Homo sapiens: one gene and its partner. The protein of the gene in region 2 interacts with the protein of the main gene of each other region in a pairwise test. Each region holds a gene or a part of one and is shown on either strand. Other genes may lie near its edges.

Region 1 (3,671 bases), on a different chromosome or scaffold from region 2:
AAATTTTGATGGAAACGGGCATGACACACATGCCAAGAGCACTCCTTGCTCCCCAGGGCATTAAATCACCTTGTTATTTAGTGCCCTCTAGAATCCACTAATTTACATGTGGTCTCTTCTCATAGAAGCATCTCAAGTAAATCTGAATTTGTTTAGACAATTTTATGGGTATTTTAAAACCACAATTGAATTTCAGGCCTTTGTCGCAGTCCAGCCAAGATGCACTCCAATTAGAAATAATTGCTATTAATGCTGTTATGATGTGGAGGATGCCTGCAGTGCTCCTGGACCTTTGTTGTACTGAATCCCCGAAGAGTCTGAGCTTTATTCTTTAACTAAATAGACAGGACCCTAGAAGATACGCTTCTGGAATTGTAATATTACAGCAATATTGTGCTTCTCTCTTAATTAACCTTGTTAACCAAGGATTTGGAACATCAGTGGGTGACTCTGAGAGGGCCTTTGATCCTCTCAGTATACATCTACAGTGGAATAAGATGTCACTGTGAAATAAAACGCCTTTATTCTTTGGCATACACCAAATACCTTCATCATTCTTTGAGTAATGATTGACAGTCTCGTTTAATGAAATAATGTTTGTCAAATACTTAATTTGCTGCCGGGCACAGTAAATGTTAGTTATGATTGTTATAATATTATCATAAAACAAGTTTTTTTTTTTTAAGGTTTTCTGAATGGAAAGGAAATACAGATCAGGGCTGTCATGTTCGTGCAGGCCACTCAAGGTAAACCATAGTGGATTCCAGAGTTTACACCCCCTGAGACTGCTGCCCCTATGACAGCATTTTACCCCCAAGATAGTCAAATTCTCAATTCTTTAGACTTTTACCGGGTCTCCCAAGGTACCGCTCATCCCCTCCTTGCTCCCCACAAGAGGGAAGAGACAAAGGCTGCTGTTTCTCTTGCAAGGCTGCCCCCACCAGCCTGAGAAGGAGTTCCAGGGATATGGTAATTAACATATTTTTCTTAATCTTGCTTTTATAGTTAATCTCCAAAGCATGAAAGCACTTTGCCAGTTGATTAAACTGTAAGAATACAATAGATCCAAAGTGAGGGCAGCACTGATGAATATAAATGCATAAAATTGCCCATTCTGCAGGAAAATGCCTCAACCTGAATCCCAACTTGAAATACTAAGTTGAACACTTAACTTTAATTGCACGAATATATTTTTTGGATCAATAGATAGCAAAAAACCTAACTTGGTATAATTTCATCTTCAAAGTAAGAAGCAACCACTCTTTGATCTCTTCTAGGAAACAAAAGTGATTCTATTTAAGAGTTTGGTCTAGGATCACTGCCTATGAGGGGGCTTCAGGGAATGCCCGGTAAGGCTCTTGGGCACAATAGTGCTGGATGGGCCTTTAGCCAGACTGCCACTCGGTCTGCGTATCCAGGGCATTCAGAAGCATTTGTGTAGCTGTTTTGGAAAGAAGGGCACTGGAGGCGGGCCTTTTCTACATTAGGTGGTACAGGTTCAAAATGGCCAGAGAGGATAGCAAGGGGGTAGAAATCCAGAGCTGTGTGTCCTCTGGAGAGAGGGCATTCTGGCTGGATATCCACATGTCCTCTTCGCCCCTCAGCCCTGCTCCCCAAGGCAGGTCAACCACAGCCGCTGGCTCCATTTGAGCCACCTCCCCAACGACCAAAGCTCAGGGCAGCTCATGGCCATGGCTTATCACTTTCTTACATCTGTGGTAATGGAAATGACAAAAATGGGCTGTCTTTATTTTTGGAAAAAAAAAGAAAAAGAAAAAACCAAAACTCAACCAAATAGGTGATAGCAACATTATTTTCAAACACATTGATTGAAAATTCTAGTCCAGATAACAGAATAGGAGTGGTACTTGTGGTCTCCAGATATATTCCACTGTCAGACAAAAATACTTTTCTTCATTGAAGTACGCATTATGTAACACTGTGTATCAGATGACCTTAGCCATAGAGTTGGTCTTTAGAGCTTCTTCTTTTGGTCAACAAAGCCATCCATTGCATGAAGGATGCCCAAATAGTCAGCTATAAGCAGTCCTGTCTTGAGGGGCAAAAAGCTAAAGAGAACACAAGAATAAACTTTCTTTATTATCATTCATGAAAGCCTCTTTACCACCTCTACTGAAAAGCAGTGTCACCTCTTGTGGCAGATGAAGTCACTCACTCATGCACACACTATGCAGCCTGAGTGCTACCCGCCTCAGGGTCACTGGGCCTTGTTCACTATATCCGGGGACACTCGCCCAGGGCCTTGACAGGTCTTCTGGCTTAAGTTATTCAATTCACTTCTCATTTCGGTTTCCAAAGCATCACTCCACTGTACAATGACACAGAGGAAGCAGTGAAGTCTTGTCCTGTAGGCATGCGCTTTGGGGGCAGATGAGCCTGGCTGGAATCCTAGCTCTGTCATTTGCAGTGCCGCCTTAGGCAATCGACTCAGCTCATAGACCTCAGTTTCCTCAACTGTAAAATGAGGTCATCAGTCTGCCTTTCTGGCGCTACTGTGAGGATGAGATGCAATAGCTCCTCAAACCTTGGGCAAGACCCAACTAACACTGTCCATCTTCTCCATCCACACCTGCCCCTCTGCAAAGCCATATACATGCATGATCATCATCCCAACAGAGCACTCTGCTCCACTGGCCTTTGCATTCAATACTGCAGAGCAAGGAAACAAAGCAGGCACGGGAAACCTGAGACTCATCCTAAGGTGGGGGTAAAGGAAAGGACCCCATGCTCCTTGTTCCCCTGTTTGGGCACCCCAAGATCTCCAGGTGGTTCATCCCTCCCACAGCTTCAAGTCTCTGGTCAAGTACTACCTTCTTTATGAGACTCCCTCCACCCACCAAACACCATTCTTAAAATTAATTCTCACCGGCCGGGCGCAGTGGCTCACGCCTGTAATCCCAGCACTTTAGGAGGCTGAGGTGGGCAGATCACAAGGTCAGGAGTTTGAGACCAGCCTGGCCAACATGGTGAAACCCCATCTCTACTAAAAATACAAAAATTAGCCAGGTGTGGTGGTGCACGCCTGTAATCCTAGCTACTCAGGAGGCTGAGGCAGGAGAATCACTTGAACCCGGGAGGTGGGGGTTGCAGTGAGGCATGATTGCACCACTGCACTCCAGCCTAGGCAACAGAGCAAGAGTCCATCTCAAAAAAAAAAAAAAAAATTAAATCTCACTTAGATGTGGTGGCTCATGCTTGTAATCCCAGTGCTTTGGGAGGCTGAGGTGGGAGGATTGCTTGAAGCCAGGAATTTGAGACCAGCCTGGGCAACATAGCAAGACCCCATCTCTAAAAAAATAAAAATAAATTAGCTGTGCATAATGGTGCACAACTATAGTCCCAGCTATTTGGGAGGCTGAGGTGGGAGGATGGCTTGAGCCTGGGAGTTTGAGGCTGCTGTGGGCTATGATCAAGCCACTGCACTCTAGCCTGGGTGACAGAACAAGACCTTGTCTCCAAAAAAAATTAAAGAGTAAAATTAAAAAAAAAACAACAACGTAAATCTTGGCCGGGTGCAGTGGCCCATGCTTGTAATCCCAGCACTTTGGGAGGCTGAGGTGGGTGGATGACCTGAGGTCGAGAGTTCAAGACCAGCCTGGCCAATGTGGTGAAACCCCATCTCTACTAAAAATACAAAAATTAGCCAGGCA
Region 2 (2,757 bases):
GCTGGGATTTCATATTTTTTATACAAGTTACAAGACTTCTACTTAACACATTTTAGGAAATGCCCATCTGAGAACCTAAAGATTGTTTCCACCACATATTTCCATCAAAAGTCTCAAAGCTGCTAGTCTGTTTTCCTAGATTTAGATGGAGTCATCTCAAAACAGCCTCACATTTATAATATATATGGTATTTTTTGGTCTCAGGCTTTATGGTTTTAAACATCATTTGCCTCGCGGTCAGGTCACTTAGAGCAGTATTTTCCTTCTCTGCATTATCTGTCCATTAGTGGGCAGAGAAATCAACTTGGTGGTTACAACCTAAATGTTTTTAAAAACTGAAATAAAACTATCATCATAGTAAGGATATGTATTACTTCACAAAAGTGTATGTGCAATGTTGTTTGTGTCCATATACAATCACACTGTGTGTGTGTGTGTGTGTGGTCACAACATAAAATACTTATTCCTATGAGTTGCAATAAAAAACAAGTGAAAGCCACTGAATTAAAGAGATGAATTTATTGGTAAATAGATAAAATTAACACCTATTTTAATATATCCAAACCCCTTCCTTATATATATTAGGTAAATTAAAAGAAAAAAATTATCAAAGCAATACTACAGCCAGCTACATCGCCAATTTACAAATGAGTTAGTAAGTACCATAAGTTTGTTTGAATATCAGGTGCTTCAGAGTTTTTCTCAAACAGTTACAAAAGAGATTAGGTTCCCAATCAGTTCACAAAAGCTAATTTAAAGAATGTAGCTTAACTACAGTACTGAGGTTGTCACACACTTAACTTTCGGTCTCTTGCTTATTTATTCATATCTGAGGTTCACTGTTTCTACTAGGATACATTCCGCCCACACCCACACCTTGGTCCCCACATCAAGCAGCTCCTCACAGCAGGAAGACATCCGCTATCAGACATGGTTTTCTGAAGTTGTGCTTAGGATTTCAGAGGAGGAAAAATTCAGAGGTTCTAATAGCCTTCGGTAACTGAGGTAGAATATGGGGCTCCCAAGAATATCTTCCATATGCCCCAAATCTGTTTCCCTCCCACCCCCATCCAGCTCTGTTCAAGGTCAAGTTTGAGAAAGATACGTGTTCTCAATGGTATATTTTTAAAATCCACATCAATTTTTAAGAGACTACCTGCTAAAGGAGAATAATGGCTCACTGCATCTTTTCTCAACCCCCTAAACTATTTTAAAAACACACTGGCAGGGACAGGTGCAATGGCTCACGCCTGTAATCCCAGCACTTTGGGAGGCCGAGGCGGGCAGATCACTTGAGGTCGGGAGTTTAAGACCAGCCTGACCAACATGGAGAAACCCCGTCTCCACTAAAAATACAAAATTAGCCAGGGGTGGTGGCACATGCCTGTAATCCCAGCTACTCGGGAGGCTGAGGCAGGAGAATCGCTTGAACCTGGGAGGTGGGGGTTGCAGTGAGCTGAGATAGCGCCATTGCACTCCAGCCTGGGCGACAAAAGTGAAACTCCGTCTCAAAAACAGGCTGGGTGAGGTGGCTCATGACTGTAATACCAGCACTTTGGGAGGCCGAGGCGGGTGGATCACCTGAGGTCAGCAGTTCAAGACCAGCCTGGCCAACATGGCGAAACCCCATCTCTACTAAAAGTACAAAAATTAGCAGGGTGTGGTGGTGGGCACCTGTAATCCCAGCTACGCAGGAGGCTGAGGCAGGAGAATCGCTTGAACCTGGGAGGCGGAGGTTGCAGTGAGCTGAGATCACACCATTGTACTCCAGCCTGGGCGACAAGAGACTCTGTCGCAAAAAAAAAAAAAAAAAACAAAAAAAAAAAACAAAAAAAAAACCACTGGCTTTAATGGTGATAATTTGCTACTAATAAAATCAATAGCTGTTTTTCAACTGAACACTTAAACTTTTAGATCCAAATAAACTGTTTGGATCTAAAAAACTATATTACTAACATGTTTCCTTATGCCAAGGGAGACATGTGAGTGCCTAGAGAAGTATGGCCTGTGGTCTCCCACATTCAATTCAGGAACTCAGGGTCAAGCAGAAGGCCATGCTATAGACTTCAACACTCTGCTCTTCCCAATTTCATTATGTCCTGCAAGTTTTAAGAGCCGTCCGGAAGAGTGTAGGTTAATGGAAAGCTCAGTGAGAACTGCTCTGAAGAAGCCCCTCAAAATAATACATTAAGCTCAGCATCATTCACGTGGGCGGAATACAAACTGACATTCCTAACAGGACTTACCTAGCATGGACTCGATCTTAACCATGGTACCAAACTCTCAAGTGAAGCACACTGATGCCTGGTGAAAGCCAGGCGTTTGGTATGATGCTGACCTAGTGAACCTCTGGCCTTTTTGGCTGTGCTCATTACCTGGTCCCAGCACTCACTGGCACAATGCCAGGAGCCCAGAGAAAGGAGCAGGGGCTGCGGGGGGGGGGGGGGGAGGGGGAAGGGGGGAGGGAGGGTGGGGAAAGGGGAGAAGGGGGGAGGGTGGGGGAAAGGGGGAGGGTGGGTGTTAGGGAGAGAGGGAGGGGGAGGGAGGGGGAGGGGGGGGAGGGAGGGAGGGGGGAGGGAGGGAGGGGGAGGGGAGAGGGAGGGAGGGGGAGTGGGAGGGGGGGGGGAGAGGTGTGGTACAACCTGCTCCCGCTTCAGTCATCACCCACCACATGGCCTCTGGCTGACCATCCAGTAGGCCCAGCATTTTCCATCCACACCACAGGCCCCATGTCCTAAACCAGGAGTTTTACAAGTC

The links.
Region 1: the proteins of SENP2 (region 2) and SDR16C5 interact in binary tests that used the Homo sapiens proteins (3 or more experiments, as listed by UniProt).

What each region holds. Positions count from the first base shown.
Region 1 is NC_000008.11:56,299,505-56,303,175, forward strand, and holds the end of SDR16C5 (epidermal retinol dehydrogenase 2), read right to left. Parts: intron 2,070-3,671; coding exon 1,976-2,069; 3' UTR 501-1,975; downstream 1-500. UniProt on the Homo sapiens protein: Oxidoreductase with strong preference for NAD. Active in both the oxidative and reductive directions. Oxidizes all-trans-retinol in all-trans-retinaldehyde.
Region 2 is NC_000003.12:185,631,295-185,634,051, reverse strand, and holds the end of SENP2 (sentrin-specific protease 2), read right to left. Parts: 3' UTR 501-2,757; downstream 1-500. UniProt on the Homo sapiens protein: Protease that catalyzes two essential functions in the SUMO pathway.